Linked DNA regions of Homo sapiens: region 1 is linked to region 2. Evidence: fine-mapped expression QTL. Tissue or cell type: caudate. Region 2 holds a variant in brackets; the other region holds the start of a gene. All regions are shown on one strand. Distances are between the middles of the regions.

Region 1 (6,166 bases), 150 kb after region 2:
ATTAACCGCAATGCTTAAACCCTGAGAAGCAATTTGTGGGCATGGAAACAATAACTTCGTGTCCCTTCCAGCTCTCTACAAAGAAAACTTTTTTTTTTAAAGGGAAGGAAAAAATTTTTAATCCTAGCAAAAGGCTGTGTAACTTCAGTTGCCAAAACCCTTGGATCTCAAACATCTACTTTCTAAATCACCAGAGTGTGAGACTCCAAAACAATGAATATGCACTCAGAAAACGAAGGCAAGCTTAAAAGAACTCACTCTCCATAGGCACCTTCTCCCAGGGTTTGCACCAAGTCCCAGTCTTCCACAAAGGGCACTGCCATGACTCCACCGAGCACCTCGGCTGTAAAAGGCAGGAATCCAGAAAAGATGTAGAGTGTAAGATCACCAGTGAAGCCACTGAGCCCCGCCTCTCCCCAGGATTGCCCACGAAAATTAACAGCTCTTGCCTTCCCCTTCTATCTCATCCACATTTATCCAAGTCTTTCAACCACGAACAACTATTCTAAACCTGACCATTTTGTCGTGTAAATCACAATCGCCACTCCCAAGCACACCGAAGGTTGAAATTCTGCCCTCCTCAGGCCCCAGAGGAAATTAATTGTTGTTATGAAGAGGTGGGAGACAAATGCTTTCCGGCGAACGACTGGGGAAGGAGGAGGGAGAGGTGGGGGTCTGGGGAAGAGAGGAAGAGGATATAGGGAGCGGTATGGGGCAGAAAACGCCTGCGGCAGCGCCTCCTCCCAATTGCTCAATTCCAATTCCCATCCCCATCCACAGCCCCACCCGTCCCAAAGGCCGGGGCGGGGCCAAACTGCCCCCAGAGGCGAAAGGAAGGGCTGGGACTCTTCCTTGGGGTTCTTAGCTAGCAGCGGGTTAGTCCCTCCTGCCCCCGCCCCCACAACGGGAACCTCCTGGTACCATTCCTCCACCCTCCGAAACCGCCCCTCCGCAGGAGTCTCTCCAATCCCCTGCGCTAGTCAATGCTAACTTTCTCCCACCATGCCCTCCCTCACTAATCTAGACCCCGAACTCCTTCTTTAGAAACCTTCCCTACTCTACCGGCCGCCCTTCCTCACCGGACTGTCCTTTGCCCACCACTGCAGGAATCCAAATGCAGCGCTTTTCCCGCCAAAACTTGAGGGCGTCACGCTGCCGCAAACTCGCGCACCCGCGCCGTAAAGCAAGACAGCGCGCGTTCCCGTGTCCTGCCCCTCTGAATGTCGGCGGCTCCAAAAGGGTGACGTGGAGATGTTGCCGCTCCCGCCCAGGGCTGCTTTGCAGTCGGGGAGAGATCCTGGCTGAAGAGATTTAAGGACGGCGGACCGCATCGGCGCGAATTGAGCTCTGGGCCCAAATATGAAGTGGCATCCGGTGTGAGGCTCGACTGGGCGGTGCTCGAGCGCTGCTGGGGGAAGCCCAGGCCTCCAAGCCTCAGGGGCGCGCGACCGACCGCGCTGCGCTTCCAGGCGGGGCTGCGGGCTTCGCTCCTGGCCGCTCTGGGCCTGAAAGGCTGCACCGCCACCTGCGTGAGGCCACCGGACAGGACTGTGAGGATCACAGTCGGTGAAGCAGAGTGCTTTGTAAACCTCAGAGTGCGGTACTCGTGGTGCTGGAGCCGAGAAACCAGCAGCAGCTGCTGAGAGCCGACTGTGAAGAAATGGGAGGAACTCCGTGTTGGGAGCGAGAGGCTTCGAAAGAACTGGCCACGCAGTCAAGTGTGTGTGGCGGGGCAAGTTTCCCGGAGAAAGCGAGCAGTTTATGTTGGAGCTTGAAGTCAGGATAACCAGTTTTGCCTTTTTTCTGTGAACCAGCTCCAAAACAATGCTTTACTTCAGCCCGGTCTTTTTGCAGGAAGACCATCTGCTTAGCTTAGTTCTACAAACTTTTTCATTTTTAATGTGCAAAGAACAGGCGGGGAGAGCCAAAATAAATCTTACAACGCAAATTTAAAAGCTGCGTACGTCATTTAAGTGGAAAAGTAAATTCTGAGGAAAGAGACTCAAGAACAAAATAGGAAAAATGGAAATAAGTATTCTCTGACAGTAAACTAGACTGGAACTCAGGGATAGGCAGGATCATCTCCATTACATTCTCCAGCACTGGCCGGGCGCAGTGGCTCCTGCCTGTAATTCCAGCACTTTGGGAAGGCGAGGCAGGAGAATGGCTTGAGGCCAGGAGTTCAGGACCAGCCTGGGGAACATAGGGAGACCCCATCTCTACAAATAAAAAAATTTAGGAATTAGTCGGGCTTGGTGGTGTGTCCCTGTAGCCCTAGCTACTTGGGAGGCCTAAGCAGAACAATCGTTTGAGTCCAGGAGTTAGAGGTTAGTGAGCACTACTGCACTCCAGCCTGGGCAACAGCATGATTCCGTAGGAAAAAAACATATTTTTTTATATGTATATATTTTATATATATACATATATATTTTCTTAGTCCTTAAGACTGGGCCACATACAAACACTAAGCATAACTGGCTATTATGATAATAGTAAAGTGAAACAAGTATAAAATGTTACTCAAGGCCGGGGCCTGGTGGCTCACACGTGTAATCCCAACACTTTGGGAAGCTGAGGCGTATGGATCACCTGAGGTCAGCAGTTCAAGACCAGCCTGGCCAACATGGTGAAACCCCCGTCTCTACTAAAAATACAAAAATTAGCCGGGCACGATGGCGAGTGCCTGTAATCCCAGCTACCCAGGAGGCAGAGGCTGCAGTGAGCAGAGATTGTGCCACTGCACTCCAGCCTGGGCAACAGAGCAAGACTCCGTCTCAAAAACAAACAACCAACAACAAAAACACACATTTCTTTTAAAGAAGCAAAGTCAGGAACAAAAATCAAGGAAAAAACTCTTAAAATGCTTATGTGTATAGTTTTGAATCATGACATCACAGATTAGGCTTCATGTAATCTTTTTACAGTTTGTTGTTTTTGGAGACAGGGTGTGTTGCTCTGTCACCCAGGCTGGAGTGCAATTGGGCAGTCTTAGCTCACTGCAGCCTGGAACTCCTGAGCTCAAGTGATCCTCCTACCTCAGCATCCCAAGTCACTGGGATTACAGAAGCGAGCCACAGGGCCTGGTATAAAAATAAAAGCAAGTTTTTATATCATTTATCCCATTTTCTCTTGTTTCCTCACTGTGTGCTGAAAACAAAGAATACGAAGAGGAAGACCTGCAAATTTCCTGTGTGTCTGATGGAGTCTTTTTAGCCTGAAAAAAAAAAAAAAAAAGATATACAGACTCCAGCAGAATACCAGTTAAAGACAGAATACATAGAAATAGCCTCTATTCTCTTCTGAAAGCCCACTAAAATATTTTAATAGTAAAGGATACCAATATTTAAAAGAACCCATAAGAACAGAGTATGAGACACATTTTGGAAAGCAGAAAGCCTTTAGATGAAAGGTAATGAAGATGAATCCCAAAGCTAGCAATGGAAAGCAGAATTAACATCACAGAACTCTGAAAAAGCTCAAGTTGAACTGGTGACACCAGGTAACTGAAGGTGGAGGTAAAAATGGGGCTAAAAGGGGTAGGTTTAAAGGCTACATAAAAAACAAATAGATCCCCGTATCCCTTCCCTTTCTATGTAACCAAGGAACTGTCCCTCCCCAAAGCTGGTACGAGATTTAAGAGGGTAAATGCACAGTATGTGAACTGGAGACCATTAGGCACAGTTAAAAGCTTGGGCACCTTACTGAAAACGGAGGGATTAAGTTTAAGTTTTATCCACTGAAGGTTGAGCCTGTTACAACTTCTTTCCCTACTCTACTCCCAGAAAGCTGACTGCCTGGCTTACATCCTTGAGTAAGAGAATATGCAAGCCTTCTCAAGGGAATCTTACCTATGCAAAAGATAAAAATCTAAAAATCAGTATCATGGATTTCCCAATGTAACAGCCCAGCCAGATCACAGTAGATTGAAACCCACATTATTAATCCCCATCTACACCCCCTACAAACAGACCTTTCAATCAGCTTTTTTGGGTCCCACTCTTTTTTTTTTTTTTTTTTTTTTTTGAGACAGTCTTGCTCTGTCTCCCAGGTTGGAGTGCAGTGGCATGATGTCTGCTCACTGCAACCTCCACCTCCTGGGCAATTCTCATGCCTCAGCCTCCCCAGTAGCTGAGATTACAGGGTGTGTACCCCACACCCAGCTAATTTTTGTATTTTTAGTAGAGACAGAGTTTTCCCACGTTGCCAGGCCGGTCTCAAACTCCTGGCCTCAAGTGATCTGCCTGCCTCGGCCTCCCAAAGTGCTGGGATTACAGGCATGATCCACTGCGCCCTGCCTAGGGTCCCACTCTTAAAGAGGAGCAGACTAGCAAGAATTTGAGAAAGTCTTTAATATGAAAGACATCAAAACTATGCTTAGTGTTCATTAGCCATGTTGCCCAGGCTGGTCTTGAACTCCTGGGCTCAAGTGATCCGCATGCTTCAGCCTCCCAAAGTGCTGGGATTACAGGCATGAGCCACTGCACCTGGCCTAGATTTGAGTTTTTTATGCTAAGTACACAATAACAGTGAAAATGAAGAGTACACTTTTTAAAAAGATAGCTTCATGTAGCCTAGAAAGTAACAAAATTAAGATCCTCAGAGCAACAACTGTAGCGACAAGTTAAAAGTTATCCTATGTATAGTATAAAGGAAGATCATTAATAATTTCTAACTGGTATTAATCATATTGATAAATAATTCAGAATAACCTCTTCCACTAAAGATTCTTTATAGAAATCAAGTAATGTACTTACATATAGTAAATCAAATCTTGAGGCTAAATCTCACCCACAGTTGAAGAACATGGTATATAAATTGGTTTGGAAGGCTAAGTGCCCTGGCTATACAAATATACAACAGCATATCCCTTAGGAGCACCACTATGACTAATCTAAAAGTTATGCAATTCCTCCTGTTCCCTTAAATGGATAACACTAAACAGTTAGCTTTTATTAACGCCTTAGGGTTTATATACATCAGTGATATATTCATAGGCTCTTTGTCCTGATATTAAATGTCCTCAAGGACCACTGTGCTTCCCAGTTAAATTGTTTTTGTTTAGACAAGATTTCACTGTCGCCCAGACTGGAGTACAGTGGCACAATCACAGTTCACTGTAGCCTCAACCTCCCAGGCCCAAGTGATCCTCCAATCTCATCTTCCCGAGTAGCTGGGACTACAGGTGTACACCACCATACCTGGCTAATTTTTATTTTTCATAGAAACAATCTCCTTATGTTGCCCAGGCTTAAAACTTTTTAAGAAGTTTCTCCTCTTTTCTTGCAGGCAGGCTGGCACTGCTCTCTAGGGACCTGTTACTGGCAATGCTTCCCCTTTTAATTTGTATCTTATTTGGAAAGAGCTTCAAAATTAGGTAGTTGAACTTGGTAACAATATACAACAGCAACACATAGGCTAAGACTAAGGGAAAAAGAAGCTCACCTTTGAACAACCACAAGAGTTTTGAGTAAAGGGTCATTCCTGTGTCATGAATAAGTGAGAGTACTGAAAAGCTCCATTTCAAATTGATATGTATGATTATATTTAAGCTGATTCAAAAACACCTACTGACCATCAAGCTCTATATGTAATGCTGGAAGAGTTTCTTCCTCTCCATTGATAAACCAATAATTTCACTGTTTGTCTTGAGTCTTCAAAACTGCTGATTTATAAAGTCAAAGAGCGTCTAAGGATAAAAGACATTGAGAACAGAGACATAGTAGCCCAGAAAGGCACTCTTCTAGCACTCTTCTGGTCCCACATTTATTCATTCAATAAAAATTTATTGAGCCACGCTGTTTCCAAGGAATTGTACTAGGTGCTGCAATGCAAAGGGTTATGACAAAACTGTCTGTAAATGTAGGATCTGAATTGGTCTTTGATAGTTTTCCTGATTTGAGAAAGAAGTCTCTATTTGGCTAATTTAGGGAGCTAAGAGAATGGACAAGGTCTGCTTATGTCCTTCTGGCAGCCTAGCATAGCTTTTGCCTCCCTCAAATCAGTTATAAGTCAAAACAAATAAGGCACATTTTTTAAAAAAATTCCCCCCTTTAATTGACCAAAGTAAAGCCATGACATTTCATTTGGTAACCTGTTTAGAATTATAAAAATCATTTCATTTGGCCCAGCCCATACTGCCCAAGACAAAACTTCCAGACAATTCTGA
Region 2 (8,380 bases):
GCTTGGAAGACACAAGCAAGCATGGTCGAGCCTAGCTGTCTCCTTTCCTTCTGTGTGTAGCCATCCTCTGCTTTATCTAGCAACCATTGTTATAACTTTAACACATTATGAATTTGTTCTTACTTCTTACAAAGTTACATAAAAATGTACTCTCTCACTGTCCTCCACGTTATTAAATCCCTATTGAATTATGACTAAGCAGTCAGCTACTGACAGCCCAGCCCTTGAGAAACTCTGCTTCTTTCCCGCTAACAACTCATGGCCGCACTCTTCTGAGCATTGCTCTCAGACAGGAGGAGCTTCTCACTTGAAATGACTGGAAGGTTTGCCCTCTCCCCAAGGGTGACCCACAGCCAATGGTTGACTGATATGTGTGAATAAAAGGGAGGTTAACTTGCACAAGTTGGGGCTGGGTATAGTGTCATTTATGTTCCAGAGTTATCTTTTGGACAAAGCCTGACTTCACCTGAATCACATCTTCTTCAAGCATCACCCCATTGTACCGTTTGCCTCATTCCCTTATAGTTTTCTCCTGAGAGCACTTCCTCACTGCATTATTTGCATCAGAATCCTCTTCTCAAGTTCTGCTTCTGTGGAACCTGGCCAAAGACAGTTGGTAACAGGAGTGGTCACAAAAAGCAGGCCATAATAAGGAATATTGCATTGGATTGTTCAACTGGCTAAATGTCAATGAGTACCCTATGGTGGTATTTGGAGTACTGACCGTTGCTGATATGTGGTAGCAGTGTGATTGTTAAAACTTTCAATTGTGGTGAACTTGGACTTAGAAGAGGTGGAAGATGAATTTGCTTGTGGGTATCTCTGACTCTGAGAAATGCAGAGATGATAGTGATGATAAGGATTGTGGCATTGGATGGCTGTTGCTAAGCATGATTGGAGCACCAAAGACAGAAAATAGCAGGCTCGTATTTATTAATCCAAAAATTTAGAGCAAAGTGTGAGTCAGAGGCCTTTCTTGGCAGCATTTAGAAATACCTTCATTTCTTGCAGCTGATAATGAGGCAAGGCATTCAACTGTAAGGGTTGGAGAACTTTAGAGAGAATGAAATTCTTAGCCCAGACAAGTCTCCTGAGCCAAAGTCAGGGCCCTCATAAGGAAGGAGTGTGACTCTGAGACTTGGGATAATGGGGATATCTGGATTGGTATACTTAACTCCTTAAGCCCTGAAATTTTTCTTTTGTCCCAATGACCATGCAGGAAGATAGCAGTCTTCTTGCTAGAACAGCATGGAAAGACCACAAAAATGTCTTACAGGATAATGCCTGACTTTCCCAGGATCTGCCCGTACTTTCTCTGCTGGCAACCAGAGCAATGAATTGGGTCAAAGCTCATCATAGAAAAACTGGGGAAGTGCTGCTCTTTTTAAGGGAGGAGAGGGATTTGACACTGAAGGAGCTGAAGAGCCTACCTGACATATTCTGGCTACAACTGGGAGAACATACCTGGAAGTAAATTCTGAGGGTGCTGGATTGATAAGGATGGAATATGAAACCAAATAAGGGAGAATTTTTTTATGTGGCACTTTCCCATGATAAGTGCACTGGAGACTGATTGTTCCTGATCCACCGATGGATGGCTCTTGACAAGTTGCAAAAAGTGTCAGCCC[A/G]CATTAAATAAAGTAGAAATGCAAAAACTGCCTTGTCAGATTGCGGAAGAGGGGAACGAAAGGCTCAGAGAATTCAGCATGTTAGAGTAGATCACTTATGTAAGTTTGGAAGAAATACTTGCTGGCCTGTATCAGGGAAGTAAAAATCTGCAGGTGAAGGATTTGTCAGCATAATTGAGAAGATCACTAGTGACTTTCCTCTGTAGGCTGGAGCTGATGGAAAGAGGCGCTGCCACAGAATTGGGCTCCCTAAGAACGGGGAAGATAGGATCACGAGCTAGGAAGAGCCAGGTGTCAGCACTTAATCATCAGATTCGAGGTAGGCAAAATTCCTGTAATGGGTAGCAAGACTGGATGGTAGCCATAGAATCCTGGCCCCTAGAACTCTACAGAGATAACGAATAAAACCTGGTTTTCTTAGGAACAAGTTGTGTGCTCCTCCAAGAGTAGTGCTTAATACATATGATCAAAAGAAATAAAAAATGAATGAGCAGAATATGGGCTTCAACTGACGAATGACAAGTCATAATCCCTTGCCTAGTTTTCATACCCGAGCCAGTTCTCAGACCCAGGAACATTAAGCCAATGGCCATTATATGGTGTAGTGCCCCCGACAGACAGAAACGTGAGTTTGGAAACCAACAAGCTTGGAGATCCATTTGGGAGACCACTTGGGGGATTTGTGTTTGCTGCCCTGTAGCTTGACATCGTGTGCCTCTAGATGTCCTGATGTCCAGAGGAGAAACCCTTTCATCAGGTGACTCAGTAGGTGTCTCTCAAAACTTAAAGCTACGGCTGCCTCCTGGACAATTTGAGCTCCCTGTGCCAGTAGACTAACAGACACAGAAAGCAGTTACTATGCTGGAAGAAGTAATTGGTCCTGAACATCACAAGAAGGTAGACTACTACTATATATGAAGGCAGTAAGGAATACGTTTGGTGTTCAGGCAAACATATTCATAAACATGCCCCACTGGGGCATCTCTTGTTATTCTCCTGCCCAGTGTGAAATGTGAATAGGAAAATACAACGCCGTAGTCTCATAAGTTCATACAGACCAGGAGCACAGACCCCTCAAGGATAAGGGTCTGGGTTATCCCACCTGTCAAGCCACCTAGACCAGCAGAAGTGAGACTGGTGTGGGAGAGGAAGGACGTAATAAATATACCTTATGTCCCCTTGACCAACTGCAGCAGTGGAGAGTAGTTCTTCCTATTAACCCTCCTCTAAAAACATTTGCAAGAAATTCTGGCTAATTTGGGGAAACTGCCTTGATAGAGTAGTTTTTACTGTGAGAAACAAGTTGATCTCAGTGAATAAGGTATAGACTCTAATAGATGCAACTGGAGCCCTGTCCAGGTCCTCTTTACTTGGCAGTGCTATAAATATTAGCTACTAATAGCTACCAGTGACACCCTTCTCTTGAGAATTGCTCTTGGATCAGGGGATCCACCTCACCTAGAAATGCCTCTTGTTGTGGGTGACACACAAAAAAATGACTGATACAGGGACACATGAGGTTGCCCCTTTGCCTAGAGATGGGATGAGCCTGTGCTGTCAATTATCCCCTGGCATGCTCTTAAGCCTGATGCTTAAGCTGAAACCACGCTTGTGCCTTGTTTCTCCCCTTGCTCTCTTCTGCTTTCTTTACTCCTTTACAGGTTATTCCTGAAAGTACTTTTTCAATGAATCACTTGCACTAGAATTCGTATCTCAGATTCTGCTTCTAGGTAACCAAACCTAAGATACTCATCACTTTTTCAGTTAAACAGTCTAGCCCACGGGTCAAAGCTCCCTCATTATCCATTGGTCCTGTAACTCCTGAAAACACCTGTTTCAGTACTTTGCGGCATCAACCTTGGGCAGCACACCTTCTTCTATATCACCTGGCTGTCTCAAGGTTTTAGCCAAAGTCTCAAGAAACATGTTAGTATTATTTGGGTTCAAATAGGAAACAGATGGCACATTAAATTAGCATTTCAACAAGTTTTTTTTATGAAGGGTCTAATCACACAGGGTTATGCAGGGAATAAGGGAACCACAAGGAGAGTTGAGGGATTGGAGCAAGAGGAGGTTGGATTTTCACCACCCTTAACCTAAAGAGATGAGGTGGAAAGGATGTTGCTGGGACTGGGAAGAAAGTGTGTTGAGCAGCAACTTTTTGTTGGGAGTACAGCCAGCCCGAAGCCATGTCCTACAGTGGGAACCAGGAGACCAAAGCCTGTGACCTCACACTATTTCCTTCAGCTGATCTGCATTAGCTTCCCACTGGTCACTCAAACAGAGTCCAGAGGCTTTGGGGGCCCAGTGATATAATCCATATTTGATATGGGGCAGAGAGCAGGCTGGAGAAGGGTAGGGAATGGGTGCGAAAGGGGTAAATGCAGGAAAGCCAGCACACCCAGCACACCCCACCCATTTTGCCTCTGAGCATCCATTCTTCTTCATCTGGGTGAGAGAATGCACAAATTCTCATTACAATCCTATGCTTGAGAGGTGATAGCAATTCATCATTCTGTCACCAAAAAGACCACGAAGCAGCCACCATCAGGGCTCTTGCTATAAAGCCGTGGAGTTCAAGGAAGGCAAATGAAATGACTAAACAATATAAAAATATTTGCTGCAGCCTTCACTTCCTTAACTGGCTGTGATGTCTGAGCTGACAGTCAAAGTGGCCCTCTTGCACTTCCCATCCCATGCTCTTACTTCTGTAGCATCTTAGCTGGGCGGGGTTCTCAACCTGGGGGCATACCGTGCAGGATTGGAATGCTTGTTAGTTTGTCTTACTGCATCGTTACAGTTTACTTCTTTCTTTTTGAGACAAGAGTCTCGCTCTCGCCCAGGCGGGAGTGCAGTGGCGCGATCTCGGCTCACTGCAAGCTCTGCCTCCTGGGTTCACGCCATTCTCCTGCCTCAGCCTCCCGAGTAGCTGGGACTACACGCGCCCGCCACCCCGCCCGGCTAATTTTCTTTTGTATTTTTTAGTAGAGACGGGGTTTCACCGTGTTAGCCAGGATGGTCTCGATCTCCTGACTTTGTGATCCACCGGCCTCGGCCTCCCAAAGTGCTGGGATTACAGGTGTGAGCCACCGCGCCCGGCCATCGTTACAGTTTTCTAATGAACAGGACTATTAGGTAAAGGAGCCAGTGGATTCTCTGATTTTCAAATATTGTCTTTCTTGCCCCCATTGTGTAATAGAAATTTCAATTCTTGTAATCAGAATAAATTCCTCAGTCAGTACAGTGACTTTTCTCTCCACCTATCAGACACAACCAGTTGAGAAATTCTGACATTCTGCTATCCTTACTCTCTCATCTCCCCTCTTCCCATTCTTTCTTTCTAACATAGAGCCACTGAGGCTTCATAGACTAATGGGCTGAAAGTATCCCGTCTAAATCATGAGACTGTTTTTTGATATGTGTGCCTCAGGCTCAGTTGTTGATATAATAGATGAAAGATAAAAGGAGTTTGGAAAACCCCTTCTCAAAATAATTCCCCAACTTAAGAGGCTGCAATCATGTTGCGTCATCAGATTTTAAATGTCAAACCCTGTTTATTACTATATTATTTTAGTTTTTTTTCTGTACCAAATCTTGTTTCACTCCTGAACAGAGAGATACCTAGGTTATACCAGCATCAGGATGGCTACTGTAGGACACAAAAGAGAAAAATCACATCAAAAATAGAATAAACCTTTCCCTGTTACAACTTCTCCAAGTCTCAGAAGCCTCTGAGGTCCTGCCCGCAGGCCCTCGGCTGCTCGGCCGGATCTACTTCAGCGCCTCCTGACAAGGCTGAGCTTGGGTTCAGAATGCCAACTTGAGAGGCTTCTTATCTTTCCTGCAAACTGAGAACTTTGATTTTTTTATCTTGCTCAAATCCTAGCCAAGGGGCTTGGGGAATGTGCCCTACGAACCGTGAAGTCTCACAGGAGGGATTTTATTTAACCCTACATATTGTGGCCTGCTTTCCAAACTGACTCTGGCACGTCACATAACAAATAAGGAAGGGAATCAAAATATTTTAACCCCGAATATATTTTCTTGCCATTATCTTGAAATTACCCTGCAACAAGGTTGTCTCTTGTGGGAATAATCCATTTTCTGTAGAGAATCCCCTTTCCCCCACTTTTTCGTTCTTTGCAGACCCAGGAAACAATCATCTAAGAGCCAGGCACCCTTTTAAGCCCAACAAGAAACATTTTACAACCTACTCCCTCTGAAGTCTCATGAGCGCTTCCTCAGCACAGTAAAACTTGGTCTTCACAACCCTCTATCTTAACCTAAACATTTCCTTTCTATTGATCTCAGGTCTTTAGATAAACTTAACCAATTGTCAACCATAAAATTTTTAAATCTACCTATAAGCTGGAAGCCCCCACTTTAAGCTGTCCTGCCTTTTGGGAACAAACTACTATATTTCTTAAATGTATTTGATGGAAGTCTCATGTCTCCCTAAAATGTATAAAACCAAGCTGCACCCCGACCACCTTGGATACATGTTCTCAGGACCTCCTGAGGACAGGGTCATGGGCCATGGTCACTCATAATTGGCTCAGAATAAATCTCTTCAAATATTTTACAGAGTTTGAGTCTTTTTGTTACAAAACCAACATAGTGTTTCTTCTCTCTTCTTCTTGTTGCATTAACTATGTTAACAGTGAGAATTTGCCGGGAACTGTTCTTGCATCTCATGAAATGTAAGCTTCTACAATAACGTCTCACTGTTAAAAACCTTGGACGTCTTCTCCAGTGGGTCCTGAATTCCCAAACTGGGCTCCCATGTTTCCTGGGTCCAAGTTATTGCCTCTGCAATAACTTATTTAACCTCTACGTATAAGCAAAGATTTTTTTTTTCTACTGAGGTGGTCAGAAAGTTAATATGTTTTCTCCAATACTATCTGTGAAATCAGGTTTCTATTCGCAGGCTGATAAGTGTTGACCATCTACTCCAAGGCATTAGCTGCTTTGAACCCACAGGAAGGATCTAGGGCCAGGCCTACGGGCTCTTTCTTACGCTTGGCTGCTCCTCTGCCTCAAGGGAGGACAAGCCTGTATGTTTCAGGGGTTTGGTCCAGCAGCAGTTCAAAATACTCCTCTTCAAGTTCAGTTTCTACACTTCCTGAAAATTCCCCCTTTGAAGTGCTCTTCTTGCAAGCACATTTGAGGGAAAAGATTAGTCTTATTTTGCTCATAATTCACTTCAATGCTATAACTGCACATCTCATTTCTATCACGAGCCCTCGTTCATTTACAACAGGTCACTCCCTGGGACTCAACGACTGTCCTTCTTGATATAATAAAATTTATTATGATTATAGTTTTAATATTAAATAGATAATGAGCATTTTCTTGTGCCAAGTGCTGACCTGAGCCACTTATGCACATTATCCCATTTTATTTTTTCTACAAGCTTATGAAGCATAGGGAGGTCAAGTTACTTTCGTAAAGTCTAATAAGTGGTACAGTAGAAACTGTAGGAGCTTTATCCCAAATATGATGCTGCTGCCATGACATGGGTCTCAGTAAAGAATTTAACTAGGTGGGCCCAGCTTCTCTATTTCCAACAATACTATCATTCAGGGATGTATAAATGTATCAGACTTACTGAGCAGCTGGCATAGGCAGAACTAAAATGCAAACTACGCATTCAATATGACTCCACAGTCCAATGGAAAGAGAAGGAAAGTGAAATCTATCTCAGGTGGTCCTCTTGTGGATATAACCCAGGTCCTAGCTTTGTTCCTCTATCCCCAAGTCTCTGAATCTTTCTTCAAAACGCCATTGTTTTCACTTGTCTCTTTTGTTGTAAGTAGTATTCTCAGTACCTCAAGCCACTTCTCAATACCTAGCAGGTGGCAGGCATCCAATATATACTTGTTGAAGGAATGAACTCAGGAATAAGGTAAGGCCTGTCTACTTCCCAGAAGTCTGAGAGTGGTACTCAGTAACTCATGGAATTTTACTTCCAAAGCAAGGAATTGATCAACATTGCTGCAGACATGGGGGGCATGTTATTCAGGAGGACAGGCTAGCATGGGCTTTAGCTCTCCAAATTGTGCAAGGAGCAAGGATTGGTTTCAGCTCTTGGACTCCTGTTCCTCATAAGAGCTTCCCAGCAATACAAGGTGAGACAATGCCTCTTCCATCATGGGGTATCCAGTTGGAAACTGGCTTATCCCAAATGCAAACATCAATTTACAGAGATAAATATTTTGCTGAGTAAATTAGAACCTAATATAAGTCCATCAACCATGAGGATGAAATTAATGTTACTTGGTCCTAATTATTCATCCTCCTGCTTCAAGCCTGCCCAGAGGTTCAGGGGCATAAGAATGAGGCCATGGGTCCTACACTTTTAAGCAACAAAACCTCCGTAATTTGATACTCAATGATTGACTTCACAAAGTCTGAGCTGAAGTTTTGAATCTACTACCTTTTTTCTTTCTTTCTTTTTTTGTGTTGGGAAGACTACTATTTTAGACAGATTTCTATGTCATTCTCTCTGTTTGAATAGGGATAGCAAGAGGACTCCATTTTATTATATCCCCCAAATAAATGAGGAATCAGAGACGTGGTTGTGTATGTGTTGCTACATATGCAGGGAAATGGGGTGGCAGGGTGGTTGTTCTTCCAGATACATACAATTTTGTGAAACACAGCGCAATGTTTTCTAGGTCATTTCCTTATCTGATGCATTGAAAACCTCCCCCAAAGTTCCTGCTTTAAATTCAGACAAGTGAATGTCTAAA

Which allele goes with the higher level. Positions count from the first base shown, and alleles are read on the strand shown. Sizes are in standard deviations (SD) of each study's normalised expression.
With allele G in place of A in region 2, the expression in caudate of the gene that starts at base 1,929 in region 1 is lower (small effect, 0.39 SD a copy in GTEx).

Evidence for each region. PIP is the estimated chance that this variant, and not a neighbour inherited with it, causes the effect.
Region 1: CHEK1 starts here. The variant in region 2 is fine-mapped to the expression of CHEK1 in caudate (GTEx, PIP 0.91).

What each region holds. Positions count from the first base shown.
Region 1 is chr11:125,620,926-125,627,091 of GRCh38, reverse strand. It overlaps CHEK1 (checkpoint kinase 1), which reads right to left and starts at 1,929. Exons shown (of 13, transcript NM_001114122.3): 1 at 1,080-1,929; 2 at 259-343. The coding sequence starts at 323. It overlaps STT3A (STT3 oligosaccharyltransferase complex catalytic subunit A), which reads right to left. Exons shown (of 18, transcript NM_152713.5): 18 at 4,001-6,166. It overlaps LOC118567325 (a long non-coding RNA gene), which reads left to right and starts at 1,198. Exons shown (of 1, transcript NR_170378.1): 1 at 1,198-1,955. RefSeq lists enhancers at 284-333, 1-437, 1,254-1,763.
Region 2 is chr11:125,765,576-125,773,955 of GRCh38, reverse strand. No RefSeq gene overlaps it. Among named protein-coding and RNA genes, the nearest start is that of PATE2, 9.1 kb to the left of the region's middle. The variant A/G (reference allele first, on the strand shown) is at 1,629.